Linked DNA regions of Homo sapiens. The protein of the gene in region 1 interacts with the protein of each later gene in a pairwise test. Each region holds a gene or a part of one and is shown in the gene's direction. Other genes may lie near its edges.

The links.
Region 2: the proteins of CEP350 (region 1) and CTNNA1 interact in binary tests that used the Homo sapiens proteins (3 or more experiments, as listed by UniProt).
Region 3: the proteins of CEP350 (region 1) and APTX interact in a two-hybrid assay, tested with the Homo sapiens proteins (one large-scale study listed by BioGRID and IntAct).
Region 4: the proteins of CEP350 (region 1) and TNIK interact in a two-hybrid assay, tested with the Homo sapiens proteins (one large-scale study listed by IntAct).

Annotation. Positions count from the first base shown.
Region 1 is NC_000001.11:180,091,796-180,100,025, forward strand, and holds part of CEP350 (centrosome-associated protein 350), read left to right. Parts: intron 1-818; coding exon 819-2,821; intron 2,822-3,727; coding exon 3,728-4,135; intron 4,136-4,242; coding exon 4,243-4,389; intron 4,390-7,067; coding exon 7,068-7,190; intron 7,191-8,230. UniProt on the Homo sapiens protein: Plays an essential role in centriole growth by stabilizing a procentriolar seed composed of at least, SASS6 and CPAP. Required for anchoring microtubules to the centrosomes and for the integrity of the microtubule network.
Region 2 is NC_000005.10:138,774,349-138,782,578, forward strand, and holds part of CTNNA1 (catenin alpha-1), read left to right. Parts: intron 1-7,574; 5' UTR 7,575-7,576; coding exon 7,577-7,681; intron 7,682-8,230. UniProt on the Homo sapiens protein: Associates with the cytoplasmic domain of a variety of cadherins. The association of catenins to cadherins produces a complex which is linked to the actin filament network, and which seems to be of primary importance for cadherins cell-adhesion properties.
Region 3 is NC_000009.12:32,991,049-32,999,278, reverse strand, and holds part of APTX (aprataxin), read left to right. Parts: intron 1-1,930; exon of another isoform or gene 1,931-2,036; intron 2,037-8,230. UniProt on the Homo sapiens protein: DNA-binding protein involved in single-strand DNA break repair, double-strand DNA break repair and base excision repair.
Region 4 is NC_000003.12:171,065,688-171,073,917, reverse strand, and holds part of TNIK (TRAF2 and NCK-interacting protein kinase), read left to right. Parts: intron 1-2,594; coding exon 2,595-2,695; intron 2,696-4,920; coding exon 4,921-5,070; intron 5,071-7,182; coding exon 7,183-7,342; intron 7,343-7,591; coding exon 7,592-7,731; intron 7,732-8,230. UniProt on the Homo sapiens protein: Serine/threonine kinase that acts as an essential activator of the Wnt signaling pathway. Recruited to promoters of Wnt target genes and required to activate their expression. May act by phosphorylating TCF4/TCF7L2.

The DNA of each region.
Region 1 (8,230 bases):
TCCAGCTTGGGTGACAAATTGAGACACTATCTCAAAAAAAAAAAAAAATGTAATTCAGTGAGAAAATAAAACTGAGGTGCAAAGAAACATCAGTGACAAATAGAGATTTGGCCAGGCACAGTGGCTCGTGCCTATAATCCCAGGTACTTAGGAGGCTGAGGCTAAGGATCGCTTGAGCCCAGGTTCAAGGCAACAGGGAGCTGTGACCACTGCACTCCAGCTTAGGTGACAGAGCAGATTCTTGCTCTTACAAAAAAAAAACGATTTGAATTTAAAACTTTTAACTCTTGGTTTGTTAGCTCACTATATTGTACTTTGATCATATTTTGCACGTTTAGCTCTTAAAGTGCTATATTTGCAGAAATAGTTGATCTATTTTCTTTTTAATTCAAGAGCTTAGTTGAAGCTCCTAGGAAAATGTATTCTTTTAGAAGTATATATGGAAGTCTGTTTCTCCTTCACTAGTTTCCTGTTTGAAAAATGTTTGTAATAACCATCATACAATTCTATTTTTGCATGATTTGAGGATGAATGTGCAAAGCAATGGTTCCATCAACTTAGATACATTTTTCTTCACTTTATAAGTTAAGACAGTGCTTAAGAAATTATTCCAAACTTTAGAATTTTCAGTAATTTTAAATGTTGATACAGATGATATTCTCTTAAAAGAAAAACTTATAAAGTAGCCAAAACAGGTCATATTTATTGACTAGAGGGGTTTTTTTCACTAAAATTTGGCTTTTCTCTAAACTTTGGTTCACAAAATTGAAAGATAGTGATTAAATAATTTTGATGTGGTGATTTGTTTTTTCTTTAAGATGCTTCACTGTCTGGTTCTGAGAGATCAGTATCAGAAAGGTCTTTATCTGCATATGCAAAGAGAGTAAATGAATGGGACAGTCGAACAGAAGATTTTCAGACCCCATCTCCAGTTCTCAGATCATCAAGGAAAATCAGAGAAGAATCTGGAGATTCTCTAGAAAATGTACCTGCATTACATCTTCTCAAAGAATTAAATGCCACTAGTAGAATTCTTGATATGTCAGATGGCAAGGTTGGAGAATCTAGTAAAAAATCAGAAATAAAAGAAATAGAGTATACAAAATTGAAGAAGAGTAAGATTGAAGATGCCTTTTCTAAAGAAGGTAAATCTGATGTCTTACTGAAATTAGTCCTAGAACAGGGAGATTCATCTGAAATTCTTTCAAAGAAAGATCTTCCTTTAGATTCTGAAAATGTTCAGAAAGACCTAGTTGGATTAGCTATTGAAAATCTCCATAAAAGTGAGGAAATGTTGAAAGAGAGACAGTCAGATCAAGATATGAATCATAGTCCAAACATCCAATCAGGAAAAGACATTCACGAACAAAAGAACACAAAGGAAAAAGATTTGTCTTGGTCAGAACATCTTTTTGCTCCTAAAGAGATACCATACTCTGAAGATTTTGAAGTGTCTTCTTTCAAGAAAGAAATTTCAGCTGAATTGTACAAAGATGATTTTGAGGTGTCATCTTTGCTGTCACTCAGGAAAGACTCTCAGTCTTGCAGAGATAAGCCACAGCCAATGAGGAGCTCTACAAGTGGAGCCACTAGCTTTGGTAGTAATGAGGAAATCAGTGAGTGCCTAAGTGAGAAAAGCCTTTCTATCCATAGCAATGTTCATTCTGACAGGCTGTTGGAACTCAAGTCCCCTACTGAGCTGATGAAAAGTAAGGAGCGCAGTGATGTGGAGCATGAACAGCAAGTTACTGAATCCCCTTCCTTGGCTTCAGTTCCTACTGCAGACGAGTTATTTGATTTCCACATTGGTGATAGGGTGTTGATTGGAAATGTTCAGCCAGGAATTCTTCGATTCAAAGGTGAGACTAGTTTTGCTAAAGGATTTTGGGCCGGAGTGGAGTTAGATAAACCTGAAGGAAATAACAATGGAACATATGATGGTATTGCATATTTTGAGTGCAAAGAAAAGCATGGTATTTTTGCTCCTCCTCAAAAAATATCTCACATTCCAGAAAACTTTGATGACTATGTAGACATTAATGAAGATGAAGACTGTTACTCAGATGAACGATATCAGTGCTATAATCAAGAGCAAAATGATACAGAGGGTCCAAAAGACAGAGAAAAGGATGTCAGTGAATATTTTTATGAGAAATCCCTACCTAGTGTGAATGATATAGAAGCCTCAGTTAATAGAAGTAGAAGCCTTAAAATAGAAACAGACAATGTACAGGACATTTCTGGGGTACTTGAAGCCCATGTTCACCAGCAGTCTTCAGTGGATTCACAGATTTCTTCAAAGGAAAACAAAGACCTCATTTCTGATGCCACAGAAAAGGTTTCCATCGCTGCAGAAGATGACACTTTAGACAATACCTTTTCCGAAGAATTGGAGAAGCAACAGCAGTTTACAGAAGAGGAAGACAACCTATATGCTGAAGCTTCAGAAAAGCTTTGTACACCACTTCTGGATCTTTTAACAAGAGAAAAAAACCAACTGGAAGCCCAGCTGAAGTCATCACTAAATGAGGAAAAAAAGTCAAAACAACAACTGGAAAAAATCAGCTTACTGACAGACAGTTTACTAAAAGTCTTTGTAAAGGACACAGTCAATCAACTACAACAAATCAAAAAAACCAGGGATGAGAAAATCCAGCTTAGCAATCAGGAGCTTCTTGGTGATGACCAAAAGAAAGTAACACCCCAAGACCTATCCCAAAATGTTGAGGAACAGTCGCCAAGTATTTCAGGTTGCTTCTTAAGTTCTGAATTGGAAGATGAAAAAGAAGAGATTTCCTCTCCAGATATGTGTCCCAGACCGGTGAGTATTTCGTCTAGAAAAAGTATCAGTATACCTTTTGACACTTTTAACAAGGCAACTTACCTTGCCTATATAGTACATTTTAATTCTGTGACTCCTGATAGGTTTTTTTTCCCTTGACGTGTTGTTTATTAGAGAAGGATCACTGTACTGGTTTTTAAAGGCCTTGTAGCTGTTTTTCCTGGCTGAAGTGTAATTGTCCTCTATTATGTCATGAGTAGTCAATATAGGGTTGTCACAAGCACTGGCAGGTTTTGGGGAACTAAAACATCCATTTAAACTGCTGAGTTGACAACCCCTGTACTGTCCATAGATTACATCTCCTTCCAGATTCACTGAACAAATTCGTTCCATGGAGCTTTCCAGTGGCTCACCACCCAATTCTTTTTTGCCTGTGAAATTGTTTACATATCTACTCAGTCATGGTTGGCCTGCAGAGGTTAGCAGTTGTGATGTTGATTCTGGTAAAATGAAATAGATCCACTATGACATGCACTCAGACCATCAGCTTGTTTATGTTGCCCATGGACAGTTGAGCAAAAGTAATGACTTTGAGTAACTTGAGCCAGATGGTCACCAGAGGTGAGAAATTTTATATCCCATTTCCATATCCCATAGACAGTTCTTTAGAAACAGAATAATGATAATACAAAAAGCGGGGAGAGCCCTAATCAATAAACATTTTATAAAAATTCAGTTATATGCAAGGTTTATATAAGTAGAATTGAGGGAACAGGATAACTTTTTCTTAGATTGTTTATTAGTAGCCACCATATTGTTTTTTATTCTGCTTACTTATAGAGAAATATTAGATATATAAATAATGCATTTACTCTGTCTTTTTTTAAAAAAAAATGATATGAGGTCCCTAAATGGTGCTCTGTTTGAATGGTTCCATTTCTATAGGAGAGCCCAGTATTTGGTGCCAGTGGGCAGGAAGAACTTGCTAAGAGACTTGCTGAACTTGAACTCAGCCGGGAGTTCCTGAGCGCGTTAGGAGATGATCAAGACTGGTTTGATGAAGACTTTGGTTTGAGCTCTTCTCACAAGATCCAAAAAAATAAGGCAGAAGAAACCATTGTACCTCTAATGGCAGAACCTAAAAGAGTAACCCAACAACCATGTGAAACATTATTGGCAGTCCCCCATACTGCAGAAGAAGTAGAGATTCTTGTACATAATGCAGCAGAAGAACTTTGGAAATGGAAAGAATTAGGCCACGATCTTCATAGCATCAGTATTCCTACAAAACTGCTTGGCTGTGCCAGTAAAGGTCTAGATATAGAAAGCACTAGTAAAAGGGTCTACAAACAGGTAGGTGAAATAAAAGGATAATTTTAGTTTTTAAACTTTTCTCCCATTGTCTGAAATTTGGATTCTTAGCCATTTTGTTTTGTTTTGTTTTGTTTTTCTCTATCAAGGCGGTTTTTGATTTAACAAAAGAGATTTTTGAGGAAATATTTGCTGAGGATCCCAACTTAAATCAACCTGTCTGGATGAAGCCATGTAGAATCAACTCTAGTTATTTCCGACGAGTGAAAAATCCAAATAACCTTGATGAAATCAAGGTAAACTGCAAACTATAAAGTGTCTTCTTTTTTGACTTGCTGTTCATTTACACATATCTGTAAATGTTGTAAAAGCAGGTGCTCTTCTGTATGATTAACCTTTGTGTCTTCAGGACCTGTTCCATAGTGGGTATTCAATAAAGATTTGTTGACTTACTGAATCCATGAACAGTGGAGGGATTGGAATGAGTGAAAGGGCTGAATCCTCAAGTTTGTGCAAAAAAAAAAAAAAATTCTTTTACCAGTCATTTTCTCTATATACATAATTATAATATTTAAGAAAAATTAGGAAATACCTAGGGAGATAAATTATTGCAACTAATAGGAGTTTTAGGTAAGTTTTGGGGGCTTTAGAGATAGGTATAATGTTCTAAAAGTACATATGAATACGTGTCATATATATGTCTTTTCAATATGCCAGCCCTGGACACATAGGTGTTAACTTCTTTATCTTTGACTTTGGAGGTTTCAAATTGGTAATGTGGTTTTGAACTATGTAGGATAGTAATGTGATACGTAAAAATATTTATTTTGTTATCTAAGAAACCTTTGTAAACCTTTGTCCAGAAGCTACAAGGACTATGAACTTTAAAGTCACATTGCTGGCAATCTGCTCTGCCTAGTCACATGTTTCTTTACGGCAAAGGTTATATTTCCAGAGCAGTGATTCTCAACTTTTAATGTGCATGTGAATGATCTGAGGATCTTGTTGAAATGGAGATTCTGATTTAGTAGGTCTGGAGTAGGACCTGAAATTCTGCATTTCCAACAAGCTCTCAAGTCATGCTGGTCCTGCTGGTCCTGCTGGTCCTGCTGGTCCCAGGACCACGCTGAGTAGCAAAGCTTTAAACTTGTATTTCCCAAACTTATTTGATCACAGAAAGCCTTTAAAAATATTTTATACTTATAGAACACCAACAGATATTTATGAGATGGGATGTATGCTTACCTCAGGGGTTGGCAAACTATGGCCCATAAGCCAAATCCAGGCCCCTGTATGTTTTTATAAATAAAGTTTTGTTGGACCACAGCCATACCTAGTTGTTTACATGTTACAACTACATGTAACTACAACAGTGGAATTGAATAGTTGTGACAAAGACCACATGGCCCGCAAAGCCTAAAATATTTACAGTCTGATTTTTTACAGAAAAAATTGGCCATCCCCTGGCTTAAAGTAACTAGCTTTTTAAAAACACATTGTATACTCCATTCCTTCTACCCTTTCACAATTGAAAATGCTTGAATGCTATGTGTGTCTGTGAACAGGTAGGGAGTGATGGAATTTCCGGGCACGTTGGTACTTTGAGAATCTTTCCAGGTGATTCTGATTCATAAATGTGTCCCTTCCCCTGTTAAGAACATTGTTTTTTTAACAGAACAACCATAAAAGTAACAAAATAAATTATTAATAACATTAAGTTGAGGTAAGACAAGATATATAATATATACCAACAATCAAACTACATGCATCAATATAGCATACAATAAATGCCCACTAATTTTAATATTGACATAACATTTTGTAAAGTTTTTAAGGGTGATAGTTCAAATATTGTTAGTAGTAAAATTATTATGCTTCTCATACTGAAGTGTTGATATTTTTTAATTTAACATATTTGAGTTTTGGTGCTTCAAAATAAACTATCCCAAAGTCTTTTGCTTTTCTCACATTACATTGTCCCCAAAAATTTCTTTGAGATTTTTCCAATTCAGAGATTTATTTTATGCTTTCTTTAGTAGTTTTGCCAGCTTGAAGTTAGCTAATGGTAGTTTTGTTGTTGTTTTTTCTTTGTTTTTCTTGAGGTGGAGTTTCACTCTTGTTGCCCAGGCTGGAGTACAATGGCGTGATCTCAGCCCACTGCAACCTCCGCCTCCTGGATTCAAGTGATTCTCCTGCCTCAGCCTCCTGAGTAGCTGGGATTACAGGCATGCGCTACCTCACCCAGCTAATTTTGTATTTTTAGTAGAGACAGGGTTTCTCCATGTTGGTCAGGCTGGTCTCGAACTCCCGACCTCAGGTGATCCGCCGCCTTGGCCTTTCAAAGTGCTGGGATTACAGGCGTGAGCCACCGCACCCAGCATGGTAGTTCTTAAGTAAACTCTAAAGTGATTTTTCTTTGCAGATTAATCAGTGGGTTTTACTTTGTTGTTGTTGTTGTTGTTGTTATTTTTAGATAAGATCTCGCTTTGTCACCTAGGCTGGAGTGCAGTGGTGCAATCTCAGCTCACTGCAGTCTGGACCTCCTGGGCTCAATCAGTTCTCCCACCTCACCCTCCTGAGTAGCCAGAACTACAGTCATGTACCACCATGCCCAGCTAATTTTATATATTTTTTGTAGAGATGAGGTCTCTCACTATGTTGCTCAGGCTGGTCTCAAACTCCTGGGCTCAAGTGATTCTCCTGCCTTGGCTTCAGAGAGTGCTGGGATTACAGACGTGAGTCACCGTGCCCAGCTAGGTTTTACTTTTATATGTTGCGTAAGTGAATAAAGTCTCAGCATTTGGAATGCTTTTCCCTTCAAATTGCTATGTGGAACTGTAAGTGGAAGAAATTTGTATGATAATTTTATTGTAAATATTATATTCTTATCGTGAATCTGTTTACTGCATTGTAAACACATGAAACTCAGGAATTTCTGTTGTTTGTGTTTCGTGTATTTGTCTTGTTTCCACAGAGCTTCATAGCAAGTGAAGTACTCAAGTTGTTCAGTCTTAAAAAGGAGCCAAACCACAAAACAGATTGGCAGAAAATGATGAAATTTGGAAGAAAGAAAAGAGACCGAGTGGATCATATCCTGGTCAGTGTATACAACCAAACTGTTTTTATTTTGACCATATCTTTTAAACTCAGAATGCAGTTAGATTCTAAAAGGAAAAGGGATAGACTTATTCTTAAATCTATGGTATTAAAATCTTAAAGCCTTTACTTGCTGCATTTCTACCCCTCAGTTTTGTTAACTATTTTCTTTTGTACTCAGTAGATGAACATTTAACTTGATCAATAGTATTTTATGTAGAACTTGAGAAATTTACTCAAATGGAAGCAAAGTTTAAGGTAGTGAATTGAAAAGAGACCAGTGTGGACTCTGGAGCCTGACTGCCCATGTTTAAATCTCTTGATGTGTAATCTTGGACAAATTTGTCTAACATTTTTGTGCAAAGTGAAGGTAACAATAATAGTACTTACCTGATAAAATTATTAAGAAAATTAAATAAGTATATGTGTAAAGCACTTAGAATAGTTCCTCATATACAACTCAGTAAATAATAGCTGTTACCTCATCATCATCACTATTATCATTATCCAGAACATTCCCTGGATAGGATTTATTTGGTTTTGCAATATATTTCTGTAACATTAGGAAAGTGTTTATCAAAAAAGAAAAAAAGAAAAATTCAGGTTTCACTCTAAACATTTTAATTCTGGACCTTTTATCTATATTGACATTTATATAATGAAAAAAAGTGTAATACTTAAATTTATCACCGTTCTCATGTATGTACCTCTCTAGTGTTTCATTTACTCAGTAATAACTGTACTAGATAACATTTGCTTAGTATTTTATAGTTTATCATTCTTATGCCTTATTTGATTTTTTTTTTTTTTTTTTTTTTTGAGACACAGTCTCGCTCTGTCACCCTGGCTGGAGTGTGGTGGCACAATCTCTGCTCACTGCAGCCTCTGCCTCCCAGGTTCAAGTGATTCTCATGCCTCAACCTCCCGAGTAGCTGGGATTACAGGCACCTGCAACCATGTCCAGCTAATTTTTGTATTTTTAGTAGAGATGGGATTTCGCCATGTTGGCCAGGCTGGTCTCAAACTCCTGACCACAAGTGA
Region 2 (8,230 bases), on another chromosome or scaffold:
TTTTTGCACAGTAAGACTTCTTGGAAGTTGTCACTAACGTTAAAGTTGGGAGATTCCATGTAAAAATCTGCATCCCTGGCCTCTCTTGAAAAGTCAGATGGTCTGGAAACCCTGGATTTATGTGGTAAAGATTGCCTGGAGTTGATGAACAAGTGGGCACAAGCTTTCTGATTTTGAAGTCCTGGCTCCTCCTAGTGGTCCCTGTCCCCAGCCTGGAGAGGCCAGGTGTCATTTGCAATTCATTATTGTGCTGTTGTGCATATTGTGCTGTTGTGCCACCTTTTTTTTTTTGAGGCGGAGTCTCGCTCTGTCGCCCAGGCTGGAGTGCAGTGGCGCGATCTCGGCTCACTGCAAGCTCTGCCTCCCGGGTTCACGCCATTCTCCTGCCTCAGCCTCCTGAGTAGCTGGGACTACAGGCGCCCACCACCGCACCCAGCTAATTTTTTGTATTTTTAGTAGAGACGGGGTTTCACCGTGGTCTTGATCTCCTGACCTCGTGATCCGCCCACCTCGGCCTCCCAAAGTGCTGGGATTACAGGCATGAGCCACCGCGCCCGTCCTGTGCCACCTTTTTTAAGTTAAGAAGTAAGTGAAATTATTTGTACTCCAAAGTATCAAAATTAGGAAAACAAAAGACCAAGAATGTTTTTTGTTCAAGAAAAAAATGAAAGTCTTTTTTTGAGAAAGTGAAATAGTTATGTGTTGTACCTGTTTAATAATTAAACACAAATGTGACCACATATACCTAAATGTCTGCTTGCAGCTAGCTTCACTTAACTTTCCTCTTGGCTCTCTCCCTTTGCAACCCTGGAAGGTTCTGTGTTTTGTTTGTGTTAATGCAGTATCTCTGGAATGCTAGGATATGTAGGATCCATAGGGCAAATAGTTCTTCTGAAATGTCTTATCTGTGACATTTGATGACATTTGGTTGAGCTGTTGTCAAACCTTTAGCAATCTAGAGCATTCCATTTCCTAAGGTTCACTGACTTGGGTTGATCAGTTGAGTGGACAAATAACCTTTAAAAACCAAAGTGTAGGCCTGACGTCACATGAATGTAGACAGCAAATTCATCTACCTTCAATGAAACAGATGACTGGGACACAGGCATTCTGTGTTACCAGATTAGGCAAATGCAGGTTCCTTTTGGCACCCCTATCTCTAGTGATTCTAGATTTGATGACAGTATAATGACAGTATAATGATGAAAATTCAGAAATTTAACATTGATACAATGCTACTGTTTAATTCAGTACCCATAGTCAAATTTTGTCAATTGTCTCAATGTTTTTCCCTTTCTCAACACAATTTCAGTCCAGAATCACTGTGTTTAAGTCTCTTTAGCCTCCTTTAATCTGGAAATATTTCTTTTTTTTTTTTTTTTTTTTTTTTTGAGTCGGAGTCTTGCTCTGTCCGCCCAGGCTGGAGTGCAGTGGCGCGATCTCGGTTCACTGCAACCTCCGCCTCCCAGGTTCATGCCATTCTCTTGTTTTAGCCTTCTAAGTAGCTGGGACTACAGGCACCTGCCACCACACCTGGCTAATTTTTTTTTTGTATTTTTAGTAGAGACGGGGTTTCACCGTGTTAGGCAGGATGGTCTCGATCTCCTGACCTCATGATCCACCTGCCTTGGCCTTCCAAAGTGCTGGGATTACAGGTGTGAGCCACCATGCCCGGCCTCTGGAAATGTTTCTTTTTTTTTTTTTTTTTTTTTTTTATTGATCATTCTTGGGTGTTTCTCACAGAGGGGGATTTGGCAGGGTCACAGGACAACAGTGGAGGGAGGGTCAGCAGATAAACAAGTGAACAAAGGTCTCTGGTTTTCCTATGCAGAGGACCCTGCGGCCTTCCGCAGTGTTTGTGTCCCTGGGTACTTGAGATTAGGGAGTGGTGATGACTCTTAACGAGCATGCTGCCTTCAAGCATCTGTTCAACAAAGCACATCTTGCACCACCTCAATCCATTCAACCCTGAGTGGACACACCACATGTTTCAGAGAGCACAGGGTTGGGGGTAAGGTCACCGATCAACAGGATCACAAGGCAGAATAATTTTTCTTAGTACAGAACAAAATGAAAAGTCTCCCGTGTCTGCCTCTTTCTACACAGACACGGCAACCATCCGATTTATCAATCCTTTGCCCGCCTTTCCCCCCTTTTCTATTCCACAAAACCGCCATCGTCATCATGGCCCGTTCTCAATGAGCTGCTGGGCACACCTCCCAGACGGGGTGGTGGCCGAGCAGAGGGGTTCCTCACTTCCCAGTAGGAGCGGCCGGGCAGAGGCGCCCCTCACCTCCCGGACGGGGCGGCTGGCCGGGCGGGGGGCTGACCCCCCCACCTCCCTCCCGGACGGGGCGGCTGGCCGGGCAGAGGGGCTCCTCACTTCCCAGTAGGGGCGGCCGGGCAGAAGCGCCCCTCACCTCCCGGACGGGGCGGCTGGCCAGGCGGGGGGCTGACCCCCCCACCTCCCTCCCGGACGGGGCGGCTGGCCGGGCGGGGGGGCTGACTCCCCCACCTCCCTCCCGGGCGGGGCGGCTGGCCGGGCAGGGGGCTGACCCCCCCACCTCCCTCCCGGACGGGGCGGCTGGCCGGGCGGGGGGCTGACTCCCCCACCTCCCTCCCGGACGGGGCGGCTGGCCTGGCGGGGGCTGACCCCCCACCTCCCTCCCGGATGGGGTGGCTGCCGGGCAGAGACGCTCCTCACTTCCCAGACGGGGTGGCTGCCGGGCGGAGGGGCTCCTCACTTCTCATATGGGGCGGTTGCCAGGCGGAGGGTCTCCTCACTTCTCAGACGGGGCGGCTGGGCAGAGACGCTCCTCACCTCCCAGACGGGGTCGCGGCCGGGTAGAGGCGCTCCTCACATCCCAGACGGGGCGGCGGGGCAGAGGCGCTCCCCACATCTCAGACGATGGGCGGCCGGGCAGAGACGCTCCTCACTTCCTAGATGGGATGGCGGCCGGGAAGAGGCGCTCCTCACTTCCTAGATGGGATGGCGGCCGGGCAGAGACGCTCCTCACTTTCCAGACTGGGCAGCCAGGCAGAGGGGCTCCTCACGTCCCAGACGATGGGCGGCCAGGCAGAGACGCTCCTCACTTCCCAGACGGGGTGGCGGCCGGGCAGAGGCTGCAATCTCGGCACTTTGGGAGGCCAAGGCAGGCGGCTGGGAGGTGGAGGTTGTAGCGAGCCGAGATCACGCCACTGCACTCCAGCCTGGGCACCATTGAGCACTGAGTGAACCAGACTCCGTCTGCAATCCCGGCACCTCTGGAGGCCGAGGCTGGCGGATCACTCGCGGTTAGGAGCTGGAGACCAGCCCGGCTAACACAGTGAAACCCCGTCTCCACCAAAAAAATACAAAAACCAGTCAGGCATGGCGGTGCGCGCCTGCAATCACAGGCACTCGGCAGGCTGAGGCAGGAGAATCAGGCAGGGAGGCTGCAGCGAGCTGAGATGGCAGCAGTACAGTCCAGCTTCAGCTCGGCATCAGTGGGAGACCGTGGAAAGAGAGGGAGAGGGAGACCGTGGGGAGAGGGAGAGGGAGAGGAGGGAGAGGGAGAGGAGGGAGAGGGGGAGGAGGGAGAGGGGGAGGAGGGAGAGGGGGAGGAGGGAGAGGGGGAGGGGAAATGTTTCTTAATCTGTCTTTTTTTTTTTTTTTTTTTTTTTAAACAGAGTCTTGCTCTGTGGCCCAGGCAGGAGTGCAGTGGCACCATCTCCACTCACTGCAAGTTCTGCTCCCCCAGGTTCATGCCATTCTCCTGCCTCAGCCTCCCGAGTAGCTGGGACTACAGGCGACCGCCACCACGCCCGGCTAATTTTTTGGTATTTTTAGTAGAGACGGGGTTTCACAGTGTTGACCAGGATGGTTTCGATCTCCTGAACTCGTGATCCACCCGCCTTGGCCTCCCAAAGTGCTGGGATTACAGACGTGAGCCTCCGCGCCCGGCTGCTTTGACATTTTTCAAGACTACAGCCAGTTATTTTGTAGATCGTCTCACGCTTTGAATTTGATGTTGCCTCATGACTAGTTGAGGTTATGTAATTTTCAGGCGAAATAACACAGAGGTGATGTTGTATCCTTCTCAGTGCATCGTGTTAGGAGATACGTGATGTGGGTTTGTGTCCTTATTAGGGACAGTAATTTTGATTACTTGGTTAAGGTGGCATCTCAGGTTTCTGGACTGTGAAGTTACTATTTCCCCCATCTGTCATAAATAAATAATCTGTTGGGAGTTACTATGACACTAGATCACGCTACTGAGAAACTGAATGCTAATCTACTTGGTTAGCATTCTTTGATTCTTGCCTGAGGCAATTAATATTATGGTTCCTGAATGCTGATTTTTCTAAATACATTGTTCTTTCTACATTTATTAGTTTGTTTCCTATTGTTTGGAAGAACTTTTCCTTCTTTATTCATATTAGCATGGACTCATGCATTAGTCAATGGATCATACTTTGTTCTATCTAATCTCCACTAAAGCTCTCTGAAGAAGGCAGTGGTTGGTAGTCTTTTATGAGGGATCTAGTTCAAAGTTACGTTTTTTTTTTGAGATGGAATCTTGCTCTGTTGCCTAGGCTGGAGTGCAGTGGCATGATCTCGGCTCATTGCAACCTCTGCCTCCCAGGTTCCAGCGATTCTCCTGGCTCAGCCTCATGAGTAGCTGCGATCACAAGCAACCGCCACTACGCCTGGCTAATTTTTGTATTTTTAGTAGAGAGAGGGTTTCACCACATTGGCCAGGCTGGTCTCGAACTCCTGACCTCAGGTGATCCACCCACTTTGGCCTCCCTAAGTGCTGGAATTACAAGCATGAACCACCATGCCTGGCCAGTTTTCACCCAGTAGTTTTGACATTCATTGCTAATCCTTGGCTGGATCAGTTTTTACCAGTGGGGGTTGCAAGATGGTCATTTTCTAATTCTATTCTAGATTCATGGTAAAGAAATTCCCTCCCCATACCCTTTCTTTTGAGGATCCCTATGGTCTTAAGGATATTTATTTAATTATTTAGTTACAGACAGTTACAGTCATTATTCTCTTTGATAGTTGTCCTAAATTTGGCTGATGGGAGCCCTTGCTTCCTGTGTCTTTTGATATGATCTTGTTAGTCTTGTCCCCTTTCCGCACAATACAGTGCTTCAGACCTGGAACTTTGGTTTCTATTAATGGGAAATGGTCCGTTTTTTAAAAAAAAAATAAGTAGAAATGGGATCTCTCTGTGTGGCCCAGGCTGGTCTCAAACTCCTGGGCTTAAGTGATCCTCCTGCCTTGGCCTTCCAAAGTGCTGGTATCACAGGCATGAACCACCATGCAAATGGTATTTAATAGAAATAAATACTTGGGCACTGATAACACTGGTTTTTTTTTGTTTTTGTTTTTTTTTTGAGACAAGAGCTTGCTCTGTTGCCCAGGCTGGAGTGCAGTGGTGCGATCTTGGCTCACTGCAACCTCCACCTCCCAGGTTCAAGTGGTTTTCCTGCCTCAGCCTCCTGAGCAGCTGGGATTACGGGCGTGTACCACCACACTGGACTAATTTTTGTAGTTTTAATAGAGACGGGGTTTCACTATGTTGGCCAGGCTGGTTGTTTTGTTTTTTAATTTGCCAACATTGTTTTTAAGAGTAACATTGTAGCCCGTTGTGTCATTGTTACATAATTTATTGAGTGATCTGTTGTTTGAAATTTAGGTAATTTATAACTTTTAATGTTTATATAAAGCAGTGTTGTGAACATCATTGTATCCCAGTTTTTACATGTTCCTTAACTTTAGAATAAGATTTTAGCAGTAGATTTTCTGGGTCATACAAATGTACTTTTTAAAGATTTTATTTTATTTATTTATTTTATTTTTTATTTTTTTGAGACGGAGTCTTGCTCTTTCGCCCAGGCCGGACTGCAGTGGCGCTATCTCTGCTACTGCAAGCTCCGTCTCTGGGGTTCACGCCATTTTCCTGCCTCAGCCTCCCGAGTAGCTGGGACTACAGGTGCCCGCCACTGCGCCTGGCTAATTTTTTTTTTGTATTTTTAGTAGAGACTGGGTTTCACCGTGTTAGGCAGGATGGTCTCAATCTCCTGACCTCATGATCTGCCCGCCTCAGCCTCCCAAAGTGCTGGGATTACAGGCGTGAGCCACTGCGCCTGGCCAAGATTTTATTTTTTTAATTTTTATTATTATTATTATTTTTTAAGATGGAGTTTTTTTCTTGTTGCCCAGGCTGGAGTGCAATGGCACAATCTCGGCTCACTGCAGCCTCTGCCTCCCGGGTTCAAGCGATTCTTCTGCCTCAGCCTCCCGAGTAGCTGGGATTACAGGCGTGCACCACCAGCCTGGCTAATTTTGTATTTTTAGTAGAGACAGGGTTTATCCTTGTTGGTCAGGCTGGTGTCGAACTCCCGACCTCAGGTGATCTGCCCGCCTTGGCTTCCCAAAGTGCTGGGATTACAGGAGTGAGCCACCACGCCCAGCCTTTAAGCTTTTAAATGTCTACCAGCAGTTTGTTGTCTAGAAAGTTTATATTAGTGTTTACCTCAGCTTCATGCCTTTTCTTTTCTTTTTTTCTTTAATAATTGAAGGCACTACTTTTAGAAGAAAAGACTAACTGTTATTTTCGTTGATGTTTTCTCCCTATTCTTAAAGCCGCTGTCTGACAGAAGTTTCTCTTGACACTGATACAGTGATATTTGACTAAGTGTGATTTGAAATTTCTTCTGGCTATGAGTGATAATAGCTGTGGGTGCAGAGGGCAGCTGATTTAAACATTATGTTTTAATAGAATAAGACAAGTCCTTCTCTAGGAATCCATCAAAAAATGAAGTGAAGCATACCTTTTAGATACTACTGTACCATGAATGTTGTGGAGTAGGAAAAATCAGGATCTTCTGTATTCGTTTTTGAAGCAGTGTCTTTGAAAGTAGCTTTTGGCCGGGTGCGGTGGCTCACGCCTATAATCCCAGCACTTTGGGAGGCCGAGGCAGGTGGATCATGAGGTCAGGAGATCGAGACCATCATATCCTGGCTAACACGGTGAAACCCCGTCTCTACTAAAAATGCAAAAAAATTAGCCGGGCGTGGTGGCGGGCCCCTGTAGTCACAGCCACTTGGGAGGCTGAGGCCAGAGAATGGCGTGAACCCAGGAGGCGGAGCTTGCAGTGAGCTGAGATCCACCACTGCCCTCCAGCCTGGGCGAAAGAGCAAGACTCTGTCTCAAAAAAAAAAAAAAAAAGAAAGTAGCTTTCATTCACTTTAGCTTTTCATCTTGTTTCTAAAGGTGGGGCAGATAAAGTGAGTAGGAACTGAGGTAGGAAGTCTTGGTGCTAGAGAAGCCCAAAGGGAAACATTCTGTGTGTTTGGGAATGCCCTCTTGTAGTACCCCTCCTATTTGTAAGCCTGAAATCATTAAATATTAAGAGGTTGTAAGGTTTACTGGGTCTTCATGTGTAGGCTAGTTAGAATTTTTTCATCTATAGTGAATATAGCTTTCCTGATGCAAAAGTCCCAAAGTAGGAGAAGATTTGTTACATATTTCATGTTTGTGTTTGATGTTTGCCTGACTGACTTTTTGTTTCTTATTTAGAAATGACTGCTGTCCATGCAGGCAACATAAACTTCAAGTGGGATCCTAAAAGTCTAGAGATCAGGACTCTGGCAGTTGAGAGACTGTTGGAGCCTCTTGTTACACAGGTAAGAATCTGAAAACACAAATACATTGTAACATGGTTCTATAGCACAGGCCTGGGTAACAACCATAAGAGCAAGGTTATTTAGTTCAAAGCCTTAATTCCAGTACTTGAGTTTAGGTGACAGTTCTTAGATGATTTGAATATTGATGCATGGGTTTAGTTAACCCTTGAGAACGCTGCTGCTGTCGTTTTCTTCAGTCTTATTGCTAGTAACGGGTCCATGGTATGTAGTGCAACTTTGCAAATGTTTGTGCTTTGCAGATACTTCACCTTTCTTCAGAGGGGAAACCCAAGAAAGGTGGAGTCTGGATCCTTGATTGTTAAGGTCTCTCACTCTGCTTAACACACCTTTCATTGTGTGGGATTAATTAGCAGGTAATTCAACTTGAGGGTTTAGGTTTGGTATGCTACAAATGTCACAATGTTAGGGTAGTTCATAAACTGTTAGCAACTAGCTGTGTACTTTTAGTGTTTTACAATAGTATGTCTATTGTTTGTATGTGAGAGATTCAGAGAGAGAGAGAGAAAATGAGTCTTGTTTGGCAAATTT
Region 3 (8,230 bases), on another chromosome or scaffold:
TCTAGCTCTCAGACCCATCATTCCCCTGAAATTTCACCCCAAGGTCACCAGTGACTATTGTCAAACCAGATAAAAATTTTTTGATTATTACTGGATCTCTTTGCTGCTTTTGGAACTTGGTCATCCCTTTACTCCCTTCTTCTTTGCTTTACGTGTCAGTGCTCTCAGATGATTTATTCAACAAGTATTGATTGGGATACAGAGATGAACAAGACAGATAAATTGTTTTCTCTTAAGGAATTTACATTCTAGCTGTTCTCCATGTGCCTTTCTTACCAGTCATTTCTGCTATGGGTAGTCATTTTCCTCCTTCCCTAAAATGTTGGGTGTTTCTGTTGTTTGTGACTTTGGCATATAAACAATGAAAAACTGTTCTTTTTTTTTTTTTAGCTTGACCAATTTTTTTTTTATACTTTAAGTTCTGGGATACATGTGCAGAACGTGCATGTTTGTTACATAGGTGTATACTAAGTGCCATAGTGGTTTGCTGCACCCATCAACCTGTCATCTACATTAGGTATTTCTCCTAATGCTATCCCTCCCCTAGCCCCTCACCCCCTGACACGCCCCAGTGTGTGATGTTCCCCTCCCTCTGCCCATGTGTTCTCATTGTTCAACTCCCACTTATGAGTGAGAACATGTGGTGTTTGGTTTTCTGTTCCTGTGTTAGTTTGCTGAGAATGATGGTTTCCAGCTTCATCCATGTCCCTGCAAAGGACATGAACTCATTCTTTTTTATGGCTGTATAATATTCCATGGTATATATGTGCCACATTTTCTTTATCCAGTCTATCATTGATGGGCATTTGGGTTGGTTCCAACTCTTTGCTATTGTTAATAGTGCTGCAATAAACATACATGTGGATGTGAAGCTTGACCAGTTTTTATAAAATGATTATACCTATGTGACCACCATCCAGATTAGGTTACAGATACATAATATTACCAGCATTCAGAATGAAAACTGTTCTTTTCATTCTGTACACATTGCCTGAGTGAACCCATCAGCTGGCTTGGTTTTAACTACCTCCTACATGCCCCCAAATTGAAATTGTCAGCTTAGACCTCTCTGAGCTTTACCCTCACATCTGACTATCCTCCTGGACAGCTCTGCCTGCAAGTCCCACAGACACTTCAAATTCAGATGACTGAAACTGAACTCAGTGTCTTTCCTGGACTTAACTCTTATCACATTCATCACTAAGTCCTGATAGTTTTACCCCCTAAACATCTCTCAAATCTGTGCAGTCTTCTCCATCTCTACTGTTGTCCTTTTACCTGCAATATCATGGCCTTCTAACTGATTTCCCTGCTTCTAGGCCTGTTCCCCCATATCTTTTCTTCACATTACTCCCCTCCACCCCCAGATGGTCTTTGGAAACAAGTCTGTATCAAATTCCTGCTTAATCTTTAAAGATCTGTCCATGCATTCATCCATTCTTTTCTCTAATTCATTCAGCAAACATTCATTGTCTACTGGCTTGCAAAATCCATTGAAAGTTCTAAAGTTTGAGCTTCTCAGCCAGGGCTCTGCCTGTTCTGAACCCTGCCTGTATCTCCAGCCTCTTCTCTGCCTCATGCTTTAGGTTCCAGCAACACTGAATGGCATCTTCATGGGTACTGTGCTATTTCTTCTTTGTGTACTTGCCCTTGTTCTCTTTGCTTGGAATCTTCTCCCTGTTTCCTTTCTCCACCTCCTGCTCCTCACCTAATTAGGCTGCTCCTTTTCACCTAATTAACCCAGTTTATAAATGGGACTCAGTTATAAAGTTTAGGTCCACCTCCTCCAGGAAATTTTTTCCTGACACCTCCTTCCTCCCAATCTCGGTTGGGTACTCTAGCATTGTGCTTCCACCCTTTGCACAGAGCAATCATCATGTTTACCACATCTACTATTAACATAATTGTTTGTGTTTTTCTCCTCCACAAGATTTATTTTTTTTAGATGAGGTGTTGCTGTGTTGCCCAAGCTGGACTTGAACCCCTAGGCTCAAGCAATCCTTCCACCTCAGTCTCCCAAGTAGCAGGGACTACAGGTACGTGCCACCATGCCTGGCTAAGGCTGAGTTTTTTGAAGGCTGGGCTCATATATTATCTCTTTATTCCCAGTACTAGAATGGCACAAGATACACAGGAGTGTAGTAATTTTGACTGAACGATCAAATGAGTGAAGCCAAAAGTTATATGATGCAGTGGTTAAGAACCCATTCTTTGGAATTCAAATTGTAGTTCTGGCACATATTGGCTATGTGACTTGAACATGTTACTTATCTTCTCATCCTGAATTTTCTCTTCTCAGAATGGAGTTGTGAGTGTTAAAATGAGACCATGTAAGTAAGACATTTAGCATAGTGCCTAGCACATAGTATGCACTTGATAAAGGTGCTGAAAACCGGGGGATCCTGGAGTAAAGACTAGGCCTGGCCCAGGACAGTGATCTCCCGAAACCCCTCCTCATTGTTTTGTGAATGCGTAGGCAGTGATGCAGTCTGTTAGCAGGGAGATTATAATCTTGTTTGGAAAGTAGAATTACATCCACATTAAACAGTCAGAGAACTGTGAAGGTAGTTTGACCACATCCAATAATAAGATGTAGAGAAGAGAAGACAGCTCAATGAAGGCTTTAGGGAGGAGGTGAGGCTTGAAAGTTAAATAGGATTTGGGTTTTAGGAGAAAGGAATACCAGGAGACCATATTAAGAATGACTTAGGCCAGGTGTGGCTCCTACCTGTAATCCGTGCACTTTGGGAGGTCAAGACAGGAGGATTGCTTGAGGCCAGGAGTTTCAGACCAGTGTAGGCAACATAGTGAGAACCCCATCTCAAAATAAAATAAATTAGCAAGGCATGGTGGTGTGTGTCTGTAGTCCCAGCTACTCCAGAGGCTGAGGCTGGAGGACCACTTTAGCCCAAGGAAGTTGAGGCTGCAGTGAGCTGTGATGACGCCCTGCACCCAATCTGGGCAACAGAGTGAGACCCTGTCTCAGAAAAAAAAAAAAAAGAGCGATTTATTTGGGAGATGCTGTTCAGTATATTATACTTGAAGGGTATACATACAGGCATACCTCAGAGACGTGGGTTTGGTTCTAGACAACTGCAATAAAGTGAACATATGCATGTTTTGGTTTCTTAGTGCATATAAAAGTTATGTTTATACTATACTGTAGTCTGTTAAGTGTGCAATAGCATTATGGCTGAACAAACAATGTACACACCTTAATTAAAAGTACTTTGCTAAAAATTGCTAATAGTCACCTGAGCCTTCAGTGAGTTGTGATCTTTTTGCTGATGTAGGGGGGGTCTTGCCTTGACGTTGGTGGCTGCTGACTGATCAGGGTCATAGTTGCTGAAGGTTTGGATGTCTGTGGCAATTTCTTTTTTTTTTTTTTTTTGAGACGGAGACTCGCTCTGTCGCCCAGGCTGGAGTGCAGTGGCGCGATCTCGGTTCACTGCAAGCTCCGCCTCCCGGATTCACACCATTCTCCTGCCTCAGTCTCCAGAGTAGCTGGGACTACAGGTGCCCGCCACCACGCCCGGCTAATTTTTTTGTATTTTTAGTAGAGACTGGGTTTCACCGTGTTAGCCAGGATGGTCTCGATCTCCTGACCTCGTGATCCGCCCGCCTTGGCCTCCCAAAGTGCTGGGATTACAGGTGTGAGCCATAACACCCAGCCCTTTGTTGGCGTTTTGGTAATGTTCATTACATCTTCATCAGGAATAGATTTCATCTCAAGAGACCGTTTTCTTTGCACATCCATAAGAAGCAACTCCTCATCCATTAAAGTATGATCATGAGATTGCAGCATTTCAGTCACATCTTCAGGTTCTACTTATAATTTTAGTTCTCTTTATTTCTGCTATATTGGGAGTGACTTCCTCCATTGAAGTCTTGAACCCCTGAAAGTCATCCATAAGGGTTGGAATCAACTTTTTCCAAACTCCTGTTTATGTTAATATTTTGACCTCCTCCCATAAATTACAGATGTTCTTAAGGGCATCTAGAATGGTTGTATCCTTTTCAGAAGGTTTTCAATTTACTTTTTCCAGGTCCATCAGAAGAATCACAGTTGATAGCAGCTATACCCTTATGAAATGTATTTCTTAATTAATAACACTTGAAAGTCAGAATTACTCCTTGATCCATGGGCTGCAGAATGGATGTTGTTTTATCAAGCACGAAAACAATATTTATCTCCCTGTATAATATATCTCCATCAGGGATCTTGGGTGCATTGTCAATGAGCAGTAATATTTTGAAAGGAATCTTTTTTTTATGAGCAGTAGTTCTTAACAGAGATCTTAAAATATTCAGTCAGTCATGCTGTCGTCCAGGCTTTGTTGTTCCATTTATAGAGCACAGGCAGAGTGGACTGAGTATAATTCTTAAGGGCCTTAGGATTTCTGAAATGGTAAATGAGCGTTGGCTTCAGTTTAAAGTCTCCATCTGCATTAGTCCCTAACAAGACAGCCTGTCCTTGAAGCTTTGAAGTCAGGCATTGACTTCTCTCTACCTGTGAAAGTCCTAGATGGCATTTTCTTCCAGTAGCATCAAAGATCAAAGATCACTGATCACAGATCATTGTAACAGATATAATAATAACGAAAAAGTTTGAAATATTGTGAGAATTACTAAAATGTGACACAGAGACCTGAAGTGAGCACATGCTGTTGGAAAAATGGCACTGAAAGACTTGCTTGACACAGATTTGCCACAAACTGTCAATTTGTAAAAAATGCAATATCTTTCAAATGTAATAGAGCAGAGCACAAAGCAGGTATGCCAGTATGTATGTGTTTCTTGGGGAAGAGAGGAGAGAGAGGGATGGGCAAGTGGGACTAGTTCTGTGAAGAGGAACGGGAGGTGAAATACATAAGCACTGTGGAGTTACAGTATGATGAGCTTAACTTCAGGCCTGAGGGACTTGAGATGGATCAGGGCAGGGCAAGTTTCCAGGACTGTGGTGGATATTATGGTAGCCCCCCAGCCACGTGGAGTTATTTAACTATTAAGTAAAAAATGTAGTTTCTCTGTTGTACTAGCTACATTTTAGATGCTCGATTGTCACGTGGTGGGTAATTTATTGGACAGTTCAGGTTTAGAACATTTCCGTCATTGCAGAAAATTCTATTGGACAGCACTATTTGAGGTTACCTGATTTCTGGCCTTGTGTGGTCTATCAGATCACTTGAGTTCTTTAAGGAATAATCAGAATTTCTTTCTGACGGATCCCCTCAACTCTAGAATGAAAGATATAGAGCTGGGCCGGGCGCGGTGGCTCACGCCTGTAATCCCAGCACTTTGGGAGGCCGAGGTGGGCGGATCGCCTGACATCAGGAGTTCGAGACCAGCCTGGCCAACATGGTGAAACCCCGTCTCTATTAAAAATACAAAAAGTAGTCAGGTGTGGTAATGCACCCCTGTAATCCCAGCTGCTCAGGAGGCTGAGGCAGGAGAATTGCTTGAACCCATGAGGTGGAGTTTGCAGTGAGCTGAGATTGCGCCACTGCATTCCAGCCTGGGCAACAGCAAAACTCTGTCTCAAAAAAAAAAAAAAAAAAAGATATAGAGGTGAAAAATAGAGAATTGGGATTTATCCACCTAGATGTGAGAATGGATGGGATTGCCCAAAGAGAGGAACAGAGCATTCCATCGTAAGAAGAGCCATAGAAGGAAGGGAGAGAGAAGGCAGGAAAGAAAACTGGGATAATTATTACTCTCATGCAGAGAGTAAATAGCATTTGATAATTCACTTGTAAATATTTATTGTATGCCCGCTGTATGCCAAGTGTTAGATTAGGTGCTACAGATATATTGATAAGCGAAAATGGACATGACCTCTATTGTCATAGTTTTCAGTTTATGGAGTTTTACTGGAGGGACTGGGTTGAAGATTCAGGAACACCCATCCTTCTGCACTTGCCATATTGTAAAACACTCCATTTCTAAAAGTTGGAATTGGAGGCTGAAACGGGTGAAGTTACTATTTAAGGTTGGTTACATAACTGTTGTGCAGTCACTACTTCAGCTTCTCAGGAAGTAGTAAAAAGGAACACCATAACTTGAGAACTTTGGGGGAATAAAGTATCTGTATTGATGGAGGGCAGAAAGGGTAGTTCTTATTATCCTGCATCTGCCAGCCATGCTCTCTGCTGCTCACTGGATTCCTCTCTTGCCCTGCTCTCAAAATCTGTTCTCTTCTGGCTTCTCTTATTGTCAGTATGAGTAGTCAGTCACCACATATTTCCCAATGCCTAGTGAAGACATATTTCACTTCTCAGTCTGTTACCTGCTCATTCATCTGTTTCCAGCAAGTGCAAACAGATGCCCCTTGGAACGCATAGCATTTAAAAGTGGGACCTGCCCATAACACCATCATCATTTGAGGCTCCAGGTTTAGGATTTTAGATTTATAGCTGACTCTTCGTGCACCTGCATCAGCTCCTTCACAGAGACTTGCTGAACTGCCTTTTTGACCTCTCTGGCTCACGTTATATTAACAGCCTCCTCACTAATCTCTGACTCTGGATTTCTCCATGCTAGACTGCCTACACACAGCTGTTAAGTGTTCTTTGGATGCTGTTGTTTTATCTTACTGTGAAGCTCAAAACCTGGCAGTTGTCTCCTCTTGATTATGGTAAATGTAAACTTTTCAGCCTAGTATTCTTTCAACACCTCTGTCTTTTTTTGTGACTCTCCGAGGCAGCTCCTCTGGTTCAGCCAACTAAGTCTGCTTTTACCCCGACCTATGGCTTGCCATTGCCGAAATCTGTGTTGTCACTTGTGCTTTTTAAAATGGAATGGCCCCTCCCACTCCATTTCTTCTTTATCAGTCCCCTTGGCTCCTAGCCATCTCTAACCAGGAGGTTTCTGGAAGCCTGTACTGGCTAATACAGGACTTTTTACCTCCTTAGTACTCATATACTCGCACTAATCTTATTCATTTGAATTTGCATCTCCTCAGCTGTCATTTGCTCACTTTGCCTTGCATTGTCTTGTCTTTGCAGATGGTAATGAAACTGATTTTTAAAAATCGGGTTTCTTTTTTCTTTGCTTATGGACATGAAACTTGTGCAGAGGGCATATGTGCTGCCTTGACTATAGGCAGGTTTCCGGGAGAGGCATGTTAGAGGCTTGAGCACTGATAAGAGTCTGGAGTCTAGAGAGGCAATCTCTCTCTGCCCATAATTCCCTGTTTCACCTCATTGGGTGATCTCATCCTCTCTCTCTTTGCCTCAGCCTCTGTGACATGTTGATGCCTCTCAAATATATGCATTTAGTCCATTCCCCTCTCTTGAGCTTCATACCCACATATCACAGCTTGAGTCTTGGATCTTCCACAGGCAACTTAAAATAATTACATTTCAATATGAAATTGGTCCTTCTCTCTTCACTTTCCTTTTTATCCCCAAATTATGTCTCCTTGTGTATTTTTCATTTTTGTTAATGGGCATCTTCCAAATTTGAAGTCTTTGGTGAGTGTCTCGCCTTTTTTTTTTTTTCTTGAGATGGAGCCTTGCCCTATCGCCCAGGCTGGAATACAATGGTGCGATCTCTGCTCACTGCAACCTCCGCCTCCTGGGTTCAAGCAATTTTCCTGCCTCAGCCTCCCGAGTAGGTGGGAGGCACCTGCCACCACACCTGGCTAATTTTTGTATTTTTAGTAGAGATAGGGTTTTACCACGTTGGCTAGGCTGGTCACAAACTCCTGACCTCGTGATCCGCCTGCCTTGGGCTCCCAAAGTGCTGGGATTACAGGCCTGAGACACCGCACCTGGCCAGTGTGTCCTTTTATTCCTTTGTCATTCCCCAAATGTCATCAGTAATTAAGTATGTCTTCCAGATTTCTCCTGGCTCTTCTTGCTCTCCATCCCCTTTGCTTCGGCCATTGTTGAGGTCTCATCTCTCTTCTGAATTTCTTGTCTCTTTCTCTTTTACTGATAGTCCACATGGCCATAAGGGTTGTTTTTCAAAAGAATATCAGCACTTCCATTGTTTTGCGCGTTGCGTATTGCACAAAATTGTCACATTCACACTTTAGAAATTGTAGGTTTGCGGCCGGGCACGGTGGCTCATGCCTGTAATCCCAGCACTTTGGGAGGCCGAGGCAGGCGGATCACCTGAGGCCAGGAGGTCGAGACCAGACTGACCAACATGGAGAAACCTAGTCTCTACTAAAAATATAAAATTAGCTGACTGTGGTGACACATGCCCATAATCCCAGCTACTCGGG
Region 4 (8,230 bases), on another chromosome or scaffold:
ACATTCCTACCAACAGTGTATAAGCATTCCCTTTTCTCTGCAGCCTCACCACCATCTTTTTTTTTTTTTTTTGACCTTTTAGTATTAGCCATTCTGACTGGTGTGAGATGGCATCTCATTGTGGTTTTGATTTACATTTCTCTGATGTTCAGTGATATTGAGCATTTGTTCATCTGTTGGTTGGCTGCTTATATGTCCTCTTTTGAGAAATGTGTGTTCATGTCCTTTGCCCACTTTTTAATAGGATTTTTTCTTGTTGAATTGTTTGCATTCCTTGTAGAAATTTGTTGGATGCATAGTTTGCAAATATTTTCTCCCATCATGTAGGTTGTCTCCTTACTCTGTTGATTGTTTATTTTGCCACACAGAAGCTCATTAGCTTATTAATTAAGTCCCATTTGTCTTTTTTTGTTTTTGTTGCATTTGCTTTTGAGGTGTTAGTCATAAACATGTTGTCTAGGCCAATATCCAGAAGAGTTTTTCCTAGGTTTTCTTATTATAGTTTTGGGTACATTTAAATCTTTAATCCATCGTGAGTTAATTTTTGTATATGGTAAGAGATAAGGATCTAGTTTCATTCTTCTGCATATGGCTAGCCAATTTTCCCAGGGTGTCCTTTCCTCATTGTTTATGTTTGTTGACTTTGTTGAAGATCAGTTGGTTGTAGGTATGTGGCTTTATTTCTGGGTTCTCTATTCTGTTCCATTGATCTGTATGTCTATTTTTGTATCAGTAACATGCTTCTTTGGTTATTACAGTCTTACAGTATAGTTTGATGTCAGGTAATGTGATACCTTCAACTTTGTTCTTTTAGCTTAGGATTGCTTTGGCTATTTGGGCTCTTTTTTGGTTCCATATGAATTTTAGAATTGTCTTTTCTAATTCTGTAAAAAACAACATTGGCAATTTGTAGACTGCTTTTGGCAGTATAGTCACTTTAACAATATTGATTCTTCCTATCCATGAGCACGGGATGTTTTTCCATTCATTTGTGTCATCTGTGGTTTCTTCATCAGTGCTTTGTAGTTCTCCTTGTAGGGGTCTTTCACCTTCTTGGTTAAATGTATTATCCTAGGGGTGTGTGTGGGGTGTGTGTGTGTGTCTGTTATTATAAATGGGATTGAGCTCTTGATTTGATTCTCAGCTTGAGCATTATTGATGTAACTGATTTTTGTGCATTAATTTTGTGTCCTGAAACTTTACTGAAGTTATCAGCACTAAGAGTCTTTTGGAGGAATCTTTAGGGTTTTCTAGGCATAAGATCCTGTCATCAGCAGAGATAATTTCACTTCCTCTTTTCCAATTTGGATGCTTTTTATTTTTTTATCTTGCCTGACTGTTCTGGCTAGGACTTCCAATACTATAGGAGTGGTAAGAGTGGAAATTCTTGTCTTGTTCCAGTTCTTAGGGGGAATGCTCTTAGCTTTTTCCCATTCAGTATGATGTTGGCTCTGGGTTTGTCATATATGGCTCTTATTATTTTGAGGTATGTTCCTTCAATGCCAAGAGCTGTGGATCTTTTCCTAGGTTTCAGATGAAGAGATCAGCAAAAATAGTCTAATAAACACTTTATGTCATGAAAAGTTATAAAGCAAGTAACTGGAAACTTAATGTCATTTAAGTATATTAAAATTTTTCCTACCTAGTTTCTTTAGGACTCAGAATATTCTGTTTCTTGAGATATTTTACCAAGAAACTGACTGCCATGTGTACCAACTGTGGATTACGAATTCTCTAAGAATTAGAATCCACACTTAACAGCAAAAGATTCAGAAGGCACTTAAAGGATTGTTCAATTTCTCAAGGTCATCACCGTAAACATTGCTTATTATTCTATCAGAGACACACACGTAGGTAAGAGTAATGAAGAGAATGCCAGACAACAGTCTGTTCTTCCATTTTTCCATTCAATAAGCATTTATTGAGTACTACTTTGTGTAGGCAAAAGCATTGTGGGGACTCAATCATTTAACTAAGCTTCTGTCCATAGAATTTACAATGCTTAATATTCCATCTTTCTAAAGAGTAAAAGGATTTGTCAGTATTCGTAGCCCTTTAAGCCACTAACAGAACCCAAGACTCCTAACACCCCCCTTTCGTTAGAAGCATAAATAAGCAATTATTTCACTTGGTAATTGGAATTCAAATATAAATAATAAGCAAATGGCAGCCTTTATATCTGCCCATTTGCTAATTTTTCTACCATCTTGCCATATCTGCTCTCAGCTACTTAAATATGGGTGAACGTAAAAGCCAGGCAAGCTAACATGAAGGAAATTATGCACATTCTTATTACAATGAATATCAACATCAAGACCTAGTGTTAAAGACAGTCCTAAGCAGTTATATCTCTGGATGATGAAAAGTCTTCAATATAAAGCAAAAGCCATAAGTATTCTGCCAACCAAAGTTCGCTAAGGGAAGCTAAATCAGTATCTATGAAAAAATCCCACACCAGGAATATCACCTTCATGAAGCTGACACCCAACATCAATATTTAAATTTACATATTGTTGCTTATACATTCATTAATATTAATACAAAGAACTTGAGTAAATTGATGTACTTTTTCACTCATAATTTTTCTATTACAGTTAAATATGAAAGGATCAAATTTTTGGTGATTGCCTTAAAGAATGCTGTGGAAATATATGCTTGGGCTCCTAAACCGTATCATAAATTCATGGCATTTAAGGTAAGCAGGGATGTGATTATCTAAAATGTGCTTTTTAAAAATTTTCCGTTTCTACCCATTAATAAAATAGTCCATATAGACCAATACCAATTTTCATATAGATAATAAACCTGTTTTAAAAGTGTAGGTACTCTAGGGTTTATTGTTTCAAAAGTAAAGACTGAATATTTGTAAATGCTATAAAATTAGATTAAAATTTGGGTATGCCCTCCTCCTTGAGATCTATGAATCATCATCCTCAAGAGGCATTTAGAATGGTTAGTAGGCATAGCATTGATTATGATCTTATGCAATGACATTTGTTATAAAGCCACCTAAACCAGGGTATTCCCTGATATTTTGTTTGAAAAAGGCAGACAAATGGCAGCACTGAATCTCAGAGTTAAACTGAGTCTCTTTTAATCCTCATAAATCTTTCTGAATGAAGTCCCTAAAACTCAGGTGATGCTTATATGTCCCCAGTGCTAACTTACAGAAATGACCTAGTTTCTCTGCATTCTTCTATTTTGATTGCCTTTTCATTTTTTTACCTTGTCTAAGTCTGTACCCACCATGGTTGGATTGGTCACTCATGAGATTTGCCAGGAGTGGGATGGGGATATGCTAGTCCTGTTGACCCCAGCTCATGAAGCTGACACCCGAATACCAGGAGGACCAGTACTTACAGGCACCCAGATGTGTTCAGAGCCGCATAACCTATCCATAGCCCAAGTGAACTTATCTTCTGTTTTCTCTCACTCTCTCTCTCTGATCTCTCTCTGTCTCTCTCTCTCTCAGCTTATGTCTGTCTACTTCTTTATGTCTCATTGGCTCTCACTTTTTCTCCCCACCTTTATGACTGTTATCTCCATTTGGCTCCTTATTATTTTCTGCCACATTCTCATGAAGGGCAAAACTGCCCTTGGAACACCATGTAGGCCCACTTCAGAGCTGAATCACTTCTATCTTGTTCCCTTAGGGCAGATGGCTTCTGATGTGCTCAAGAAAATAGATTCATTAATGGAAATGGGCTCCCCTCCATGACCTCACTTTTATGGAAAAAAATTGGAATGCATTAGGTTACTAATAACAAGGGATAACTCCTAAAAGCCAAAGTGGTACTCCTGTTCTGCCAAAATCTATCTCCACAAAAGCTTTTCAATCAACATCCCATTCCCATTCTTGCTCTGAAGTTATTGCCATTATTTTATGACCCAGAGACACATGAGAGAGTGCAAAATGTTCTTTCTGACAGACCCTATCCAGCCCAGAAAGAGGGAAGAGCAAAGGCAAAGACTTGAACAGGAAAGAGTGGAACTGGCAAGAGGCCAAGCCTTCCCATAGGACAAGGACAGGACGCTAGAGCTTCCCATGCTGTCAGAATGGTGTTAGCAAAAGATGAGAAGAGAAGGGTCTGAGAGGTAGCAGTGGCATTATAGTTAAGGCAATTGTAGTTTCACAAATGCTCTCCCAGATCTCAAGGCCCAAAGGTAGAGCGTGGTTAAAAAATAGCAAAGGAAAATGGCAGAGGAACACTTGACAGTTAGTTGGGGCTTGGGCTCTGGATTCAAACACAGAGAACTTTGACAAACTTGGCAAGATCTCTCTTTTTGCTTTCTAGTTAAACCCAAATAGTCAATGCAAGCCATCAATCTTGTGATGTTCCACTCCCACCTCTTTCTCTACCACCCAAACCCAAGTCTCAGATTCCAACATTAAGAGAAAGTGCCAATCTTATGCCTACTCATTCACTGAAGAAAAATCCAAACCAGAGCATGCCCATTAATACTAAACAGGCTGAGAAAACAGCCGGCCTTGGCTGTCCCTCCCAGGCTGTCTCTGAAAGGGTAGTTGCTGTGGATGGGCCTGGTTGCCACATGGGAAAGAGGGGGGCCAGAGAGGTGACTGGGCCTTCTTCAGAGGACAAAGGCCAGAAATAAACAGGAAAAAACAGCAATACCCAGGCACCAGGTTTTTAATATACATTACCACTATCAAAATTTACACCTGTGCACCAACTTAAACTTCACTGCCCCGAAGGACAAAGGGTAGAGAAAGGGGCACAAATGGATGCTAGACCCTTCCTCCTAGGGCCAGAATATCAACAGACCTAAAACTGAAAGAGAAATTTTCTAGTTTTTCACTTTAATAAAGTTAGAAGTTAACTTCCTCTAGACAGTGGCTAAAGGAAAAAAATTAAGATGCCTCTTTGAGTGATGCGGATACTAATGGGGTGATTTTTAAAGTCTTTTGCAGATCTCCAGCACAAGCCTCTGCTAGTTGATCTCACGGTAGAAGAAGGTCAAAGATTAAAGGTTATTTTTGGTTCACACACTGGTTTCCATGTAATTGATGTTGATTCAGGAAACTCTTATGATATCTACATACCATCTCATGTAAGTACTCAGAAGTAGACTTTCAAGGGCTCTCTGTACAACAGCCTGCATGTAGAAAGAGATTTGTTTTGCATAGTTTTAGTAGAAGTCATGCACACTTTACTAACCAGCAAATGGACTTTCGTTCTTCATTAAGTATACTGCTTTTAATAACTAAAATATATAAATTTAACTAATTTTTATGACTTCCTAAAATTGGGGAATACATAATAGAAATCATTTGGCATTTACATGTTGTCTCTTTGGACTTTAGATTAAAATGAATATGACATATTTCTTTCAAGGGCATGAATTATATTCGGTAGACAAGTTTCCACATTCAGTTTTTGAAGGGAAATTCGTTCATTTTATGTTAGAGAAAGCCAATGGTCAGGTACTAATTTATTGGAGAAAATTCTTTTTTTGCTATTTTTAGTTCCTCTCTTCAGCTTGAGGGCAGTGTGGTACACTGGAGTCAGACACAGTGGCTCTAGCATGTATTAGCTTTGCAGTAATGGACACAGTAGGCAGCCTCTCCAATCCTCAGCTTTCGCATCTGTAAAATATGGATAAAAAGACTTATCCCATAGGATTATCATTAGTATTAAATGAGGTAATGGATCTAAAGCAGTTGGTACAGGGCCCTGCAAATTGTAGATCTTCTTATTAGCCCTAAAATATTCATATTACTATCCTGACATATTGCTTGAAACATAACTGTTAAAGGGAAATGCTGCACATGGATTCACTTATTAGGATTAAGTGTAGTGTAAAGTGTGTGTCCTGTGTGTAATCCCAAGACTAACACACAGGAGAAACTATTTATCAGGAATGTTTGAAGCTACCGCTGACTGGTATTTTGAGAGTTTTAAGACTTTATTCTAATGAAACGCAATAACTAAAAGAAGTTGTTTCAGTATATTACATACACACACACGACTGCCATTCATTGCTGCATTATTACCACTTTTAACTCATGTGGATGTGGGTGAACACAAGGACTCACAGCTCACATTCCTGGTGAGGCAGCTAAGGTGTAACTATGATAATCCTCAACTCTCTTAGTCCAATCTGTCAAGCACATGTTGGGCTGCCATGGCATTCTCAACTAGGGGATCACAACAACATCACATTTCCTTTCCTAGAACAAATTAATATACACTTATTTCAATAGTGATTTTTTTTTTTTTTTTTTTGGATACGGAGTCTCGCTCTGTCACCCAAGCTGGAGTACAGTGGCGTGATCTCGGCTCACTGCAAGCTCCGCCTCTCCTGGGTTCACACCATTCTCCTGCCTCAGCCTCCCGAGTAGCTGGGACTACAGGTGCCCACCATCATGCCCGGCTAATTTTTTGTATTTTTAGTAGAGACGGGGTTTCATCGTGTTAGCCAGGATGGTCTCGATCTCCTGACGTCGTGATCCGCCCGCCTCGGCCTCCCAAAGTGCTGGGATTACAGGCATGAGCCACTGTGTGCGGCAATAATGATTTTTTTTAATGAGTGGTCATTCTAAATATTTTTTCTAACCAAGCCATGAATTATTCTGGCATTTAGACACCCGGATAAACAATCCTATATATATATTTTTTTTTCACAGATTATTTTGGTAGTTCATTTTGACCCCACTTAAGCTATCTCCATTAGATTCAGCTGGCTTACATTCTCCTCATCTTCTTTTGGAAGTGGTTGTGCTAATAGAAAACACATTAATTTCAACGTCAGCAAGATATACACAAATCCCAACTCTACCAACAAATACTAGCACAACTTTGGTTAAGACACAAAGCCCTTCTGAGATGCAGTTTCCTCATCTGTAAACAAAGCTATCTACCTTGGGGAGCTATTGTAGGTACTAGAAATTATATATGTAAAGGGCCCCATGACTGGCACATAGTAGGTGTGCCATAGATTTACATGCTCTTTTTAGGAACAGGTAAATTGAATTTTTAATCTAGTGACTAAGTTTGATTTACCAGGGTATTTTACAAGTCAGTGGTTAAATTAAAGCAAATTTCAGTCTTTAGGGTGACAATGAAAATAAACAAAAACCTCTTTTTTGCAGTTGTTAGAGATGAATAGTCAAGGTGTTTTATTTTTTAAAAGAATAATGCTTGGCTTTTCTTTGTCTTCTAGATTCAGGGCAATATCACTCCTCATGCTATTGTCATCTTGCCTAAAACAGATGGAATGGAAATGCTTGTTTGCTATGAGGATGAGGGGGTGTATGTAAACACCTATGGCCGGATAACTAAGGATGTGGTGCTCCAATGGGGAGAAATGCCCACGTCTGTGGGTAGGTTAACCATTCCTTATCTCCTTCAGCAGTTACACCCCCCAAATGAAACGAAAATCAAGAAATGTGAAACAACCATTTGATTCCACAAAAAAAAAAAAAAAAAAATCTGTGAATAACTCTTGTAAGACTTGCTTTGTCCATTTATCTCAAGTCGTTTGTCATTTTTGTGGTTAAGATGTGAACAGATGCTGTGAGTTATTGCCCATCTAATGTTTTTAATGCAGTTTTGGAAATTCCTTTTGACAGCCTACATTCATTCCAATCAGATAATGGGCTGGGGCGAGAAAGCTATTGAGATCCGGTCAGTGGAAACAGGACATTTGGATGGAGTATTTATGCATAAGCGAGCTCAAAGGTTAAAGTTTCTATGTGAAAGAAATGATAAGGTAAATCCGTTTCAACATTTGCATTAGTGTTTGCATTTTAAGAGACCACCAGGTACCTGTGAAACCTTCATTTTCCTTTATACTGATTTGAATCACATCTGTGTTAAACAATCAATATTATCTTGAAATGGCATTATTTGGTTTGATCCATGTGAGCACTCAATATATTATTCACATGTCAAAAACTACATAAAAACATTTAGAAATTTCTTGTAAACCTCTTAGAAACCTTTGTGGCCTAAAGGCCTTTTGATGACTCAGCAGACACCCCAAATTCTCCTAAGCACTTAGAGCAGTTGGCCCATCATTAATCATCTCACAGTGGGTCAACTTTATACTTCCACTTTTAGACTTTTCACAAAGTCACTTTCAAGACCTAACCAATCACCTTATATTCACCTTTAAATCCAAAACATTTGACGTTTAGAAATATAAGCTTTTTAAAAATGTCACCCATTCCTTAAGGAATGCACAATCACAAACTCAACTAGTGCCATGT